Linked DNA regions of Homo sapiens: region 1 is linked to region 2. A link means that fine-mapping ties the variant in region 2 to the expression of a gene that starts in the linked region. Tissue or cell type: spinal cord. Region 2 holds a variant in brackets; the other region holds the start of a gene. All regions are shown on one strand. Distances are between the middles of the regions.

Region 1 (8,000 bases), 150 kb after region 2:
CTGCCCAGGCTGGAGTACAGAGGCACGATCCCAGCTCACTGCAACCTCCATCTCCCGGGTTCAAGCAATTCTTCTGCATCAGCCTCCCCAGTAGCTGGGATTACAGGCACCCACCACCACACCCAGATAATTTTTGTATTTTTAGTACAGACAGGGTTTCATCATGTTGGCGAGGCTGGTCCCACACTCCTGACCTCAAGTGATCCATCTGCCTCGGCCTCCCAAAGTGCTGGGACTATAGATGTGAGCCACCACACCTGGCCCTTTTTTAAAAGTTACAGCAAATCATGCCTGTTTTAAAAGAATCAGAAGTTGCAGAAAAACCCTAACATACCCAGTTATAACCTCTCTCTCCAGATCATTTTGTATCCAGATTTTTATTTTAAAAAATCACTGGGCTGGGGCACAGTGGCTCACCCCTGTAAGTCCCAACACTTTGGCAGGATCCACAAGGCAGGAGGATCACTTGAGCCCAGGAGTTCCAGACCAGACTGGGCAACACAGTGAGACCTTGTCTCTGTAAAAAATTTAATTAGCCCAGTGTGGTAACGCATGTCTGTGGTCCTAGCTACTCAGGAGGCTGAGGCAAGAGGATCACTTGAGCCCAAGAGATTGAGGCTGCAGTGAACTGTGACTGTGCCACTACACCCCAGCCTAGGCGATTGAGACTCTGTCTCCAAAAAGAATTTAAATTTAAAAGTCACTGATTTTAAAATAAATTATTCAATAGGTTCACAGGGCTTATTCTGGATAGAGTCAACAGGATGTTCTGGCTGAAAAAGTGAAATTGAAACAGAGTAGAAAGTGAGGAGCTAGCTATGTAAAATTCTAAGGAGAGCATTCTAGAGCATGGGCAAAGGCATCAGACGGGTCTTGGTTAAAGAATGGAGAGGTGTGTCACAGGCAGCCCAAAGGAGAGAGTGATGGGCGATAAGATGACAGATTTCTTGATTAGCATCTGAAACCGGTCCAAATCTATCTAAAATTAGCCCTTCTTTAGGTTGTTTTTAAAGAATCCCTAAAACAGCAGACTAGCTCCACACTAGAAATTCAAATAAAAGCAAAGGAAAAAGTCAGAAGGTATTCAAAATATGTCCTATCAATATAAAGATTAAATTTTTGATGCCTTGCTGAGAATTCCTGCAAGCAAGAGATCATAGCACCTCACACATTCCTAAAACATTCTATCTACATACCCACCTAAGTTTCCACAGAGGTGCTCAGAATTTACTTTACTCTCTCTGGTGATGGATAATTTCCATGCTTTCAAATCACTTTTGCTGTAAATACCCTGAGGCACTTACTTTGGTATAAAAGACTCTTGGTCTCCGCATTAAAGACACAAACAGGCCGGCACGGTGGCTCATGCCTGTAATCCCAGCACTTTGGGAGGCTGAGGCGGGCAGATCACGAGGTCAGGAGATTGAGACTATCCTGGCTAAAATGGTGAAACCCCGTCTCTACCAAAAATACAAAAAAATTAGCCAGGCGTGGTGGCACGTGCTTGTAATCCCAGCTACTCAAGAGGCTGAGGCAGAATCGCTTGAACCCGGGAGGCGGAGGCTGCAGTGAGTCAAGATTGTGCCACTGCACTCCAGCCTGGGTGACAGAGCAAGACTCCGTCTCAAAAAAAAAAAAAAAAAAAAAAAAGGCGCAAACAAAGCACTCACAGAAAACTAAACACAGAATTCACTCTACATATTGGCCAAAGGGAGACAATTTCTGGATACTGAGCAACACACAATTTATGATCTTATGTGAAAACTGATGGCCGGGTGTGGTGGCTCACATCTGTAATCCCAGTACTTTGGGAGGCTGAGGCGAGTGGATTGCCTGAGCTCAGGAGTTCAAGACCAGCCTGGGCAACAAGGTGAAACCCCGTCTCTACTAAAATACAAAATATATATACATATTAGCTGGGCGGGGTGGCACGTGCCTATAGTCCCAGCTACTCGGGCGGCTGAGGCAGAAGAATTGCTTGAACCCGGGAGGCAGTGAGCCGAGATCGTGCCACTGCACTCCAGCCTGGCGACAGAGAGAGACTCTGTCTCAAAAAAAAAAAAAAAGAGAAAAGAAAACTGATAACAAGGTGTGTTTATGTTTGTGGCCTGGGAGTGGGCTCATTTAGCATTTCATAAATGTTCTCTGTTCTCAGGTCATGACCCTTTGCCCAATGGTTTCACTATGGAGAATTTACAGATGTAACTGAAAAAATATAAACTACAAATAAATTCATTGGATAACCTATTTTTTTTAGAGTCATTTACTCAAGAAATTAATAGGGAACCCAGAGTCTAGCAGTCGGGCAATTTTGTTTTCTGATTCTGCAACCTGTGGCAGATGGTTTTCTTGGCACGTGTGACCCTGGCATTTTGCCCATATTTACACGGACTGACAGGAGTTTAAGGCTGGAGGGAGCATTTATTTTACGTGAGGTAAAAGGTCATGTCAGGCTTGCTTGTCACCTGTGTGTACATGTGGTTAATTCCCAGTCACTTCCATGTATATCCACACACTGGCAAGGGGCTATATGAGCATGAAGCAGCAAGTAGCACTTGACCTCTGTTCTATAAAGAGTGCTAACAAACAAGCGGAAATTGTGATCCTATCATTATTTGGTTTTTCATCCCTTCCTTCCCTATATGAAAGGAAAAGCTCTTGAAATAGTCCATTCTGGCGGGGTGCGGTGGCTCATGCCTGTAATCCCAGCACTGGGATGGTCAGCCCGAGGCCAAAGTGGGCAGATCACTTGAGGCCAGGAGTTCAAGACCATCCTAGGCACCATGGAGAAATCCTGTCTCTACAAAAAACAAAAATGAGCGGGGAGTGTTGTCCTAGCTCCTTAGGAAGCTGAGGCACAAGAATCGCTTGAACCCGGCAGGCAGAGGTTGCAGTGAGCCAAGATCACTCCACTGCACTTCACCCTGGGCGACAGAGTGAGACTACGTCTCAAAAAAAAAAAAAAAAAAAGGCAATTTTGTTTGGCAAATTCAATAGCATTCCTTTGAGAAAATTGGATCCCACAATCAGAACTAAAAATCATCACTACAGTCAAGCTTTTAAAAAAGGAAAAAGAACTATTTAACCAGATGCAAAGGTATACGTGACAAAATAAAACAAAAATTTAATGGTGTTACTATTCAGTGTCAGGAAATGAGCTACAAACCTCACATCCTAAAAACTCTTCAAGTCTTTTTGAAAAATACTATGTCATTCCTTCAATAATTAGTTATTTCGCCTCCTTTGATCACCATGTATTTAAGCAGGTGTGCTAGGTGCTTGAGAAACAAAAATAGGACACATCACCTGCCTTTGATAAGGTCCACAGAAATAACGCCAACGCAGGCTGAAAGCTAAACTCCTTGTCAGTCTCAAGAAGCCAAGGACCTATCACTTGCACCCTAGAACTCCAAAAGGTTCACAGAGTCGAGGTGAGGGCGCCCAGGTCACTGCTCGGGTGCTAGAGTTAACAGGTGGCCAAATGCACGTATAAACAGCAGTCTAAGAAGGAAACTCAGACGGAAAAAGTGTTGCCAACTGTCACCTACATCTTCCCAACCCCGCCCCCCAATCCTTTTTATAAATAAACGGAGGGTTTTTGAAGGGAACTGTCCAAGGTTACAACCTGATACGGAGGAATGCTTTGGTTTGGGATACCAACGAAATTGTTTATATATTTATTGAGTACTGCCACACAACATCTAAAAGTTGACAAAGTGTCAACCAAGGCACATAGAACATAAAATAAGACGTCTTTCTCAACAAGATTAAAACGTCAAGAAGAAACTGACCGAAAGAGGGAGATCTCTAACTTCCCAAAGCAAGGCAACCCCCTGGAAAGGTACTGGAACTAGCGGAAGTTACATATCCAGGGCAGAAGTGTCCCCCTCCCCAAGGGTAAAACTTTGAACCGCCATCTGACTATCCCACGGTGGTCGGAAACTTCCCTCAACAAGAAGCAACCAGACACCCAACAATCTCCGCCCTTGGCCAACCCCAGGTGTCCTCAGGCCAGGCTGCCGCTTCCTCCCCGGGCCCTGCCTCCTCCATCTCGCTCCCTTCCCAGGACACTCAGTAGCCGGCCTCGGCTTCCAACGCCGGCCTGGCTCCCGGGGTACCTGGAGGCCGCCGGGATCGGTCCCAGGGGGCATCGGCCTCAGGCCCGCCCTCCAGGAGGCCCGTCGCGCCTCTAGTCCCCGACCGGGCCGCGACCCCGCCCCGGCCGCCCCCGGAGACGGATCCCGCGGCCCCCGCCCTGCCGCCGGCCTCACCTCCTCAGCGTGCTTGCGCAGCGCCTTCTCCCGCTCGTACTGGGTGATGAGCTGCTCGTTGTCGTCCCGCAGCAGCTCCAGCTCCACCTGGTGCTCCTGGTCCTGCGCGAACACCGAGTCCAGGTTCTCCAGCACAGCCACCACCAGCGGCATCAGCTCTTTGACCACCTCCTCGTCATAGCGCCCGATAAGCCGCTCGAACTCGCGGTAGATGGAGCCGGCCAGGCCGGACACCCGCTCCGACATCACGGCCCCGGAGCCGCCGGGCTCCTCCTGATACACCACACCGTCCTCCAGCTCCATGGTGGCAAGCGGACGGGCGGGCGGCCCGGGGCGTCGCCGGCAGAGGGGCGGCACCTGCCCGCACGGGACGGACCCGACTCGGGCTGGGACGGGTACTAGGGCTGGAGCCCGGGCCGGGGCTGGGGCTGGGCCCGGCGGGGTGGGGGCCGGGGCCGGAGGAGGGGAGGGGTGGCGTAGGCGCTCTCACCCCAACCGCCGCTGCACCAACTGCCGGGGCGGCCCGGCCGCGCGCGCCACACGTCATCCGCGGGGCGGGGCCGGCGCCGCGTCGGCCCGATGGGCGGGGCGCCGCGGGAGGCCAGGCGCGGCCGGGGGCGGGGCCAAGCGTCTTCGGGCGCTGGCGGAGGAAGCCATGGCGTCAACACCCGGCGCCGCGAAGACGGTGCGGGCGCCAATGGGAAAGACTGCGGTCGGCGGGTGGGGAGAAGTATCCATCCACAGCGGGATTCGCGGGGCGGGTCCCAGGGGAAAGGGAGGGGTTCGGGAAGAGTGACGAGTTAACTTAGCTGGCATTTCTATGGCTTTTTAAAGCTCACAAAGCACCTACTCACTTCATCCCCACAACAGGCGTAAAGAGGTAGATATTTGGACCTCGTTTCACAGACAAAGAAACTAGGCCCAGGAAAGTGGCGTTGCTCTCAAGGTCACGCAGCTACAACGGGAAACGGGCTGAGCCGGGACTCAAACCAATTACCCAGATTGAGAATTCCGGGCTCCGAAAAAAACTGGAAACAGAAAGGGAGGGAAAAAAAACCATAACCAGGGTCTGCCCAAGTGGAAAGGTGGTCTCGAATAGAATAGAACTGTTTTGTGCTATGGAAGAGCAAGGGTGAGATGAGGGGAAATGGGAGTGACTGCTAATAGGTATGGGATTTCGTTTTGGGATAATAAAAATGTTCTAAAAAATGTATTATAGTGATGAATACACAACTCTAAATATGCTAAAAGACATTCAACTTTACACGTTAAGTGAGTGAATCATATGGCGTGTGAATTATATCTCAAGTTATTAAAAAATAAACAGGAAGGGTGATAGCATTCTGGAGAAGGGTGAAACTGGAACGTTACATGTGGCACTTTCCCACATAGTGTGTCTGCTACTTCTGGCCAACTTGGGACGGGGACATTTCCAGGCTCCAGCCACCCTCCTCTCCTCAAGTCTTGAAGTGGGGCGGAAAGGGTAAGTGGGAGGTTGGGGAACAGAGGAGGTAAGGGGTGGAGTCACTGGAGTGAATAAGTCCCATGACAAGTGAGGTTTCTGCCGCCTGGGAGAGTGTCACGTGTGGGGAATGACACAACGCCCACGCCTAGAGCGGGCTGAGTCAAGGATCCCGGTGTGCTCATCTAACGTCCGCAAATGGGACGGAAGACACTCTCAAAAGTCCCTTCTCTGTGTCTCAGGTGACTCAGCTCTCCGTCCCGACTCGTTTAAGAAAAGGGGGAGGAAAGGCAGGATAAACATAGGTTTAAGGGGAGAATTGGCCACCCACCGGGATCATAACTACCCTTAGCTTGGGGTTTACAAGTTTAAGTACTTCCCACCAAGTATGAAGTAGTCCCCTAAAGTTTCCTACGCATGACCCACCTGGAGACCCATAAAAACAATATGAAGGTTGGGCAAGAGTAAACCTATAAATTTGGAAGGACAAAGATGAAAATACTAAGTCTTATGAAGTGCCAGATGGGACTGAATTTGCGGCCTGTGTTTTTTCCCGTTCTCACCCTCACCCCACATTCACCCTTATGTCATTTAGATATTTGGGTAGTAGGAATGCCGACCAGCTGGTTGGCTGTGAGCCGCAAATGCCCTTTCTCTTCTTAACCTTTCATATTTGAAAACTAGAAAAAGTCTTGATCTGAATCTCTCCTCTTTTATTTTCTCTTCCTGAGGGCTGTCACTCACCTGGTCTACCTATATGCATGCCTCTCTTTTCCTGGGGGATCAGAAGAGCCAAAAAACATAGGGCAAGGCTTTACTTTTTCTTTCCACAATATTATCATACACATCAAAAAATTTAAAGAAAAAAGTATCAGCCGGGCGTGGTGACTCATGCCTGTAACCCAGCACTTTGGGAGGCCGAGGCGGGTGGATCACAAGGTCAGGAGTTCAAGACCAGCCTGAACAATATGGTGAAACCCCATTTCTACTAAAAAGTACAAAAATTAGTCGGGCATGGTGGTGCACACCTATAATCCCAGCTACTCAAGAGGCTGAGGCAGGAGAATAGCTTGAACCTGGGAGGCGGAGGTTGCAGTGAGCAGAGATCACACCATTGCACTCCAGCCTGGGCGACAGAGTGAGACTCCATCTCAAAAAAAAAAAGAAAAAAGAAAAAAGTATCGATTTTTCAAGTACGAGATTTTAATTGTCATTCCTAATAAGTATACTTCTTTAGGTATACGTTCAACATAGAAAGATACACACTTATGTCTTGATTTTAAGCTTCTGCCAGTTATCAGAGATAACATTTAGTTAAAATAAAATTCAGCTAAATAACCATCAGCTGATGAATGGATAAAATGTGACATAGGTATACAATGGACTATTATTTGGCAATAAAAAGAAAGTCGTTGGAGGGGAGGGGAGTAGGCGTGGTGGCTCGCGCCTGTAATCTCAGCACTTGCAAGAGGATGGCTTGTGCCATGAGTTGGAGACCAGCCTGGGCAACATAGTGAGACCTTCATCCCTGACAAAAAAAAAAAAAAAAATTTTTTTTGGCCAGGCACGGTGGCTTACACCTGTACTCCCAGCACTTTGGGAGGTCGAGGCGGGCGGATCACCTGAGGTCAGAGGTCAGATGTTCAAGATCAGCCTGACCAATATGGAGAAACCCTGTATCTACTAAAAATACAAAATTAGCCGGGCGTGGTGGCCCGCACCTGTATTCTTAGCTACTCAGGAGGCTGAGGCAGGAGAATCGCTTGAACCTGGGAGGCGGAGGTTGTGGTGAGCCAAGATCGAGCCATTGCACTCCAGCCTGGGCAACAAGAGCAAAACTCCGTCTCCAAAAAAAAAAAAAAAGAATAGAAAAGAAAACAAAAATTTTAAGTACATGCCATGACATAGCTGAATCTTTTTTTTTTTTTTGAGATGGAATTTCGCTCTTGTTGCCTAAGCTGGAGTGCAATGGTGCAACCTCAGCTCACCGAAACCTCCGCCTCCCAAGTTCAAGCGATTCTCCTGCCTCAGCCTCCCGAGTAGCTGGGATTACAGGTGTGCGCCACCACACCCGGCTAATTTTTTGTATTTTTAGTAGAAACAGGGTTTCACTACGTTAGCCAGGCTGATCTCAAACTCCTGACCTCAGGTGATCCACCCACCTTGGCCTCCCAAAGTGCTGGGATTACAGGCGTGAGCCACCATGCCCAGAGATACAGCTGAATCTTGAAAAAGCTAAGTGAAAGAAGTCAGTCACAAAGGACCAC
Region 2 (8,260 bases):
GGGGAAGATTATTGGACTTGCAAATAAAAACCAAGTTCAGATCCCCAGGAACGGTAAAAACAAAACAAAACACACTAGACCTCATACATGTTCATATACATATTTATATATATCTCATGTACAAAGTTACATTCTGAACCCCAGGGATTCCATAATAGAAATAAATACTGAAATAACTACATTGCTAAATGAGCTCTTTGCTCATAGAAATGAAGCTCAGCCTCTAAGAGACAGCAAGTGGGACATTCTAGAACCCATTTTTCAGATTATAGAGGCAAGTAAAATTCTGATAGAATGTCTTGGACAAAAAACGAATTTGGAACATAAAATGGTTAAGATATATTCAAATAGAGAAATGTATGACAAAATTAATAAAACTTAATCTTTTAAGAGAAAAGACAGACATTTAGTGTTACAGAATAGCATAACCCTGTTAGAAAAGCATTTATGATTTCCACATTTAATTTTCTCTTCTACTCTTCCCATGTTACAAAGTGGGACCAAATGAGTCCCTTTCTGAACATGATCAATTAAGAAGAGCCCTAAATCTGGTTGAGTCCTTTGGTAACGGTCATAATACTCACAAGGAAATAAATATTCAGTTCCATGGCATTTGCAAGACACATGTTCTTTAGGACAGTTAATATTATGACACATCTGTTTTATTTTGTTACTAAGGCAGCCTATGTTAAAGGGTCTCGTCTCAAATGTAGGAAGACCTTTACAAGAAATGAACAATACAGTAACTGAAAGAATTGATTTTAACCTTTTCTATGCAAACACAATCTGAAAAGTTATGTGCTGCATATTGTGCTCAAAATGTTTTATACTCTCCACAAGCTGCAATTAAGAGATTCATTCCTATTTTTAAAATTTAGATCCACATGGGTTAGAGAAAAATACTCTCAAAAGTGAGTTCCTAGAGAATATTATCCCTTTGCCTCACAGAGATTTTAACCTGCATTTAAGAGTAAGTGTTAGGTTGAGGCATATGATATTGTCGCTTTTGCAGATCAGCAATGGTTGAACACTGGCAATTTCATATGGTTCAACCTTGCACATGACTCAAGTGTAAAAAAAGGAGAAACCTTCAAGTATTCCTTATTTCTTCCAATAGGGGTACACTTTTTTTGTACAGTGAGATCAACCCAAAGTACGCAAGCCTCTTCTCTCCCTTGATGTGGTAGCTACAGGCAGTTACATTCCTTTGCTGCTTGTGAGAAGCTTACATTTTGGCATTTTCTTCCAAAAATTACCACGTTGACCAAAGTAAACATTACAAGAATATGAACTTGTTATTGGGGGAAAGGGGAAGTGAAGCAATCTGTAGAAAATATTTAACTGAAATTACAAACATAAGGACAAGCCTTTAAAGCAAATTATACAGGCATTTTTGTCCTCTCTCTGGTCCCTGCAGTTAATTAACAGGGCCACAGATAATCTGACATCTTTAGATAAAACAACTACACACCTATATTACTTAAGTTAAAGCCAGTAAGTTCAAAAAAAGCAATTACAACCATTTGACATGTTTGTATTTTTCATCTCTAACTCCTGATTTCCTAAATTACATTCAGTCATACAAACATGGCTGAACAACAGCAAATGGGATCTGACTCTGGGATGTTTACTTCTTGGGATTAAAATTCCCAAACACTTTGGTGTCTCTTTCTTGTGAATCTATACAACATTTCCAATAAATGTTTAATAATGATTTTTTAAAAGATATTGCCAAAAATGGCTCAGATTTAAGATGAAATAAAAACATAGCAAACAAGCTATGGAAAAGTAGCCTACATTTTGGTGCCCTGCAAAAAAGTGACTAAGTAGCTCAAGCAAAAAATTATTCTTTTAATACAGCTTTTACCAAAACAGTTTTAATACATGAGTGGCTACAATTTTATTGTGTACACAATGTGCTTATAGTCACATGTGGCCCAATGGATCCAAATGCCTCCTCTGGCTCATGAAATCCCATGTACTTCACAATCTAGCCTAATCGTGTATATGCATAAAAGCCACTGGTATACTTTTTACAGACATCTTTGTATAATAGTCCAGAAAAAAAAAATCAGTGGTACTTAAGAATGTTTAGACAATTTGACATCTACGTTTGCTTTCTTTTCTTTTCAGTAGTCCTTCTGATGATTGGGGGCCTTTATCCCATAGGTTTATACTGTTAAAACAGTACATAAAATTACATTTAGCTTTGCTTCGGACCGGCGCGGGGGCTCACGCCTGTAATTCAAGCACTTCGGGAGGCCAAGGCGGGTAGATCATCTGAGGTCAGGAGTTTGAGACCAGCCTGGCCAATGTGGTGAAACCCTGTCTCTACTAAAAATACAAAAATTAGCTGGGCAGGGTGGCACACACCTGTAATCCCAGCTACTTGGGAGGCTGAGGCAGGAGAACTACTTGAACCTGAGAGGTGGAGGTTGCAGTGAGCTGAGATCGCACCACTGCATTCCAGCCTGGGCAACAGAGCCAGACTCCGTCTCAAAAAAAAAAAAAAAAATCATATTTAGCTTTGCCTAGAGTAATAGATAAAAAAGGGTAAATCACACATTTTCAAGAAGCTTGAGAGGGAAAAAATTGCAGCATCGTGGTTTTAAAAAACTTATTAAGCAAGAAAATCAGTGAAATCCAGACTTTAATCTATTTTTTGCTTGTTTGTCTGTTTTGAGACAGGGTCTTGCTCCGTCACCCAGGCTGGAGTGCAGTGGTGCTATCAAGGCTCACTGCAACCTCCACCTCCTGGGCCCAGGTCATCCTCCCACCTCAGCCTCCCAAGTAGCTGGGACTACAGGCATGTGCCACCACACCCGGTTAATTTATTTTGTTTTTTTTTTTTGGTAGAGACAGGGTTTCGCCATGTTGCCCAGGCTGGTCTTGAACTCCTGGGCTCAAGCAATCCATCTGCCTCAGCCTCCTAAAGTGTTGGGATTACAGGCGTGAGCCACCATGCCCAACCTATTTTTTTTTTTTAATGGGCATTGTGAATGAAAATATGTAATGTCAACCTTTACTTTATGGTATCTTAGGTTTGTCTTCTTCCCCTTCATAGTTTTCCCCTTTGAGGATAACCCTTCAAGCTCAAAAGGGCACAAAAGCTAAAACGTTATTCACGTACAAAATACCAAGTATATAGCTGTTCTGCAGTTTGATACAGAACAAAAGAAAATAACTTTTCTAATTAAATCCCTCATTCTGTACTTAGGCCAGACTCCATCCCCACTACAGTTTTACTTGTATTAACAGGTTAAGAGCAATCTAGGAACATTTGGCAAACAAGTACATTTTTTACATGGAAAAAACTCAATCAACATCACCATTCTCTGGTACAAGAAATACAAAACACATTTCCTTTAAAAAATCCTCCCAGTGCTGAAGTATCTTCTAAGCTTCCCAGAGTATGTCCTAAGCTTTATAAATAATAAATCTTTCAGACATGTCAGTATGAAAATGAGACTGGTCTCAAAAAAAACCCATCAGAATATTCAGAGAAGTAGGCCTCATAAACTTTAGAGCTCTAATAAGTCAGAAACAGGAAACGTTTATTTAAATAGTGTAGTCTTAATTTCTTTAATATAAAACCCCCCCAAATCTGATGAAAACAAAGTTTTATATACCATATAAACAAGATTTGTCAGATTTGAAAGTGAAAGTTAAAGTAATTTACAGTTAGCTTTTAACCCTCTCGGGACATTTAGATACATCCTGATAATCCATCTTGTATTAGTGTGTGTCAATTTTACAATACACTGGGGAAAACTCAGCTATTGTATTTAACGGTACAGTTTCATTTATCAAGTGTTTCCCATTAATTCCATTATTAGTGACAGCTAACAAGTGACCCCATCAAATGAAGTGAATGACATTAGACTGTGGCAGAGTAAA[C/T]CACATCTGGATTGCTTTCTATAATTCACCAGTTTGCAGGAAGTAAACATTCTTTGATTTGTTCATAATATACTGAAGTTACCTATAACACTGGTGCAGTAACACAGCTAGTTCCTCTGTATTGTTATGGTAGAACGGATTTTGTAATATAAAGTTAACAGGAAAAAATGCTCACACATTATGTGGTGAAACTTATCTCACAAAAGAGCATTAAATAAAAGGATAGAGGGAAAATAAACCATGCAGAAGAGACGGCTTCCCCATCTCCACCTGTTTCCCATGGGCTCACTCATTGCCATACATCACTTGCCACACTATCAAGTGACTCCTTTCTGCTTTGGTGACAGAAGGTTCAAGTGGAAGATCCTCTCCAAGAAGTTCTGATTCTCCACCTTCATCACCTAGTGAATGATAAGAAGACTCAAGTTAGGCTGAACACATAAAATATAGAATGATGTGAGTCAGATGTAATGCTCGTGGTTAGTCCATGAACAAGATGCCCAAAACTTGTCTGACTTTCACTGGAGAGTAAATAGTAGAAGAAATACTAAGAGTCAGAATCCTCACCCATATTCACCCAAGCCACTGCTTGACTTCAGAAAAGGTTAATTCATTTTTCAGACTGTATTTATAAAATCCAGTTCACTATACTACGTTAAAAAGCCACCCCAACATGTCTGCATACCGATGGTCCAGACATGGGAAGCTAAGAAGGCAATTCTGTGTTCATCCAAAATGAAGAGTCTACTGTCACTTATTTTAAACTAAGAACTGAGAATAGTGTTATAAAATGCGTGAGCACAGGTACAGAGCAAACTAACTAAACCCAAATAACTCACAATTATCAATGACAGGTGTAATGTTCTCCAATTGAAGATAATTGACACAAGCATATGGAAATTAAAATAATTAGCCTGCAGCACTGCAGATGGCAGATTCACCAGCTACTGGGTTTTTCTTCCAATGATTTTCAAGTTTAGGATAGGTTACAAATTAACAGTGTATAATGGAAAAGGAGAAACAAAGAGGTTGGGGTAGCAGCCAAGATACAGGTTCTTCTGCATCACGGCTAAGTGAATGTGATCCATGGTGTCCTGATCAGACACTGGCTTCCAAGGCCCAGTCTGGGGTACACCACACTCCTCTCCATAAGACCCAGTGCAGGGCATACCATAATTCTCGATACAAGCTTGCATCAATTGTATCTGTTGTCACAGAGCAGGGTTATTTTGGCACAACCCAGTGAAAAGTTGTCTAGTGGGATGGATTCTTCAGCAGAATCCTAAAAACATACACACCACAGGACCTAAAGATATATTCCACTGATCTAACAGAATTTTGTAATGTGCCCCATGTGAATTTCAGCTGGACAAAAGAAAATATTGATACTGTTGACTAGAAACAACAGAAGAGAAAAAACCCTAAATATCTGCATTTTTCTCTGCAGGCCAAACTTTCCCTTACCCAGCCCTGTAATGGCCTTTTCACAGCAATATCAAACTAGAGAGAGGAGAACACTCAGTTCAAACTCCCATCTCTGAACTGAAACATACCCAGGTGGTTAGAAGGTAAAAAAATTAAGTTTGGCTCTTAAATTTTAAAAAATTTCAATGAAAAAAATTAACTGGCTGAGACAAAAGGCTGTCGCCATTTCTCTTCTGAGTTGTTCTGAAGATTTTACTTGTAAGAAAATTATCCTGTCTGCTAGGGTCTCTACAGCCTAAGTTTTAAGTTTAAATCATTAAAAATATGGGACTTTAGAATCAATTTCTCACTGTTAAAATATTACAGGAAATGAAAAAGGAAATGGACCCCCAAAAAAGATCAAATTTGATTTTTTACAACAGTATATTCACTATTAAAATTAGCCTATGCTAAAGACAAGTCTGTTTTTCAGGCTGGAAATAACTAGAGATACTGCCAAACCTGGTTAAGCAATTTTTGTTCTATTTTCAGGATCCACAATGGAAGGAATTTTTAGTGGAAATGGAAAAACCACATAGAGATTTTATTAACAAACTCCTCAGTACGGTTCCAACTGACATACTGCACTCCAACACAAAGTTACAAAAATCACCCCAGCCAAGTGGAGTCCCTAACAACTCCTCTCATAAAAGGGAATTCAACAATAGTCAATTATTCAAAACACTTTGAAATGACTCCATTCCTGCTGACATCCCTGGAATCAATTTCTAAAGTTCACACTAACAGCCTTCCCCTCTTAAAAGTGTCAACAAACTTTTTGCATCAGATATTGGTGACACTAATCACATTTGTCACATTGTCATTTAAATGACCCTAATTTTTTTTTATTCCTTTACAGAATTCATATCTAAAGTATTTGTTACTGATCTACAACACTATTATATTCTCTCAAACTGCCTACTGCCTTATGTCTGGGAACTTTTTGAAGCACTGAGATTTTAAGCGAGTCCAAGGGATCAGTTTATTTATAGCAAATAAGCTGGGTGCGGTGCCTCATGCCTGTAATCCCAGCACTTTGGGAGGCTGAGGCAGGTGGACTGTTTGAGGCCAGGAGTTCGAGACCAGCCTGGCCAACATGGTGAAACCCCGTCTCTACTAAAAATACAAAAATTAACCAGGCGTGGTGGCACATGCCTGAAATCCCAGCTACTCGGGAGGCTGAGGCATGAGAATTGCTTGAAACCGGGAGGTGGAGGTTGCAGTGAGCCAAGATTGTGCCACTGCACTCCAGCCTGGGTGACAGAGTGTGAGACTCTGTCTCAAAAAAGAAAAATTATAGCAAATAAATAAACATATTTGTACAGTGTCTTACAATTTACAAAGCACTACTCTTTCACGAGCATCAGTTCTCCATGTTTTCTTTGTACCTCTCTGGCCATTCCTTCTCAGATCCCTCCATAAGCTCTAATGATCTTTAAATGGAGTATGAATTCAGGGTTCTATCCTGGAACCTTTCCTTTTTCTTTCTTTTCTTTTTTTGAGATGGAGTCTCACTCTGTCACCCAGGCTGGAGTGCAGTGGTGTGATCTCGGCTCACTGCAACCTCCACCTCCCGGGTTCAAGTGATTCTCCTGCCTCAGCCTCCTGAATAGCTGGGATTACAGGTACACGGCATCACGCTCAGCTAATTTTTGTATTTTTATTAGAGACTGGGTTTAGCCACTGGAACCTTTTCTTTTAGCTCCTTGGGCGAACTCACCAACCCTCATGGCTTTTAGTACCACTCCATGCTGACAGCCCCCAAATCCCTCCCTCCTAAGATAGAGGACCTGTATATTCAGAAGCCCAGTGGAAATTTCCCACCTAAATCACCACTATGCTCTTCAAGATCAACATGATCAGCACTGGACTCCTCTTTCCGTCCCTCCAGACCTGCTTCTCCTGTTGACAGTCCTGAGCTCTATGGCCCATTCTCTCCTTCCCCACATTCTCATCATGCTTCTTATCTGTTCACACTGTTACTACCTTTCTTGGGCATTCACTTGTTCCCAACTCATTTCCCTAGGTCTAGTCTTGAACCTCCAGTCCATCCTTCACACAACTCTAATCACATTGCTCCTATAGTTCTCTTTTGCTTGAAAGATAAAGTACAATCTTCTTAATCTGGTATGTAAAGGCCTCCCATACTCCAGTCCCTCCCTCCCTTTTGACAACAAATTCATACTTTCTTCTACTCCACACTCTTGTCATTTTAAAATAGTTTTTCTTCCATTAAAATGGTTTCATATCTCTAAACCTTTGGCCAAGCTATTCTCTTACCTCGGAGTGCCAACCCCTGGTCCTCCCCACCCCATTCCCCAACCTGACCCTTTGTGCTAAGACTATGCAGTGCTGAGTCACCTCAAGCATCATTTCTTGACTTCCTTCTCTCCCTACCCTTGGAAAGAACTGACTACTCACTACCAGAGCATCAGTAACATTTTAATTTATTAACATGTCTCTATCTCTGCACTGTTCTATAATCTATTAGACGAAGGCTTTGTCTGATTTGTTTCTGTATCTCCAGTTTAAGAATGACAGGTACACAGTAGGTGCTCAATTAATGTTTGTTAGGTGAGAAAATGAACAAATGAAGTTGTTTAAGAAATATTTTTATTTCTCCATTTTGACAGAAAACCGAGGCTCTAAGAGGTTGAATGACTTGTCCAAGGCCTTCTGACCCTAAATCCTATGCTTTTCACATAAAACTTCACATTGACCACATCCTGCTATTTCTAATGCTCCTTTCAAACAAATACATTTTGGTATGAAAAGAAATACCAAGGGCCGGGTGCGGTGGCTCGGGCTTGTAATCCCAGCTGGAAGGCCGAGGCAGGCGGATCACTTGAGGTCAGGAGTTTGAGAATAGCCTGGCCAACATGGTGAAACCTTGTCTCTA

Which allele goes with the higher level. Alleles are on the strand shown, and positions count from the first base shown. SD is a standard deviation of normalised expression in the study named.
For the expression in spinal cord of the gene that starts at base 4,786 in region 1, T is the high allele of the variant in region 2 and C is the other (moderate effect, 0.69 SD a copy in GTEx).

What was found. PIP is the estimated chance that this variant, and not a neighbour inherited with it, causes the effect.
Region 1: it holds the start of SPAG9, and the variant in region 2 is fine-mapped to the expression of SPAG9 in spinal cord (GTEx, PIP above 0.99).

Annotation. Positions count from the first base shown.
Region 1 is chr17:51,116,083-51,124,082 of GRCh38, forward strand. SPAG9 (sperm associated antigen 9) reads right to left here and starts at 4,786. Exons shown (of 30, transcript NM_001130528.3): 1 at 4,272-4,786. The coding sequence starts at 4,574. RefSeq lists enhancers at 531-590, 701-790, 821-920, 4,299-4,418, 4,708-5,522 and 2 more and silencers at 4,039-4,168, 4,189-4,268, 4,519-4,898.
Region 2 is chr17:50,962,090-50,970,349 of GRCh38, forward strand. It overlaps SPAG9 (sperm associated antigen 9), which reads right to left. Exons shown (of 30, transcript NM_001130528.3): 30 at 85-4,298. The coding sequence ends at 4,183. Among named protein-coding and RNA genes, the nearest start is that of TOB1-AS1, 100 kb to the left of the region's middle. The variant C/T (reference allele first, on the strand shown) is at 3,898.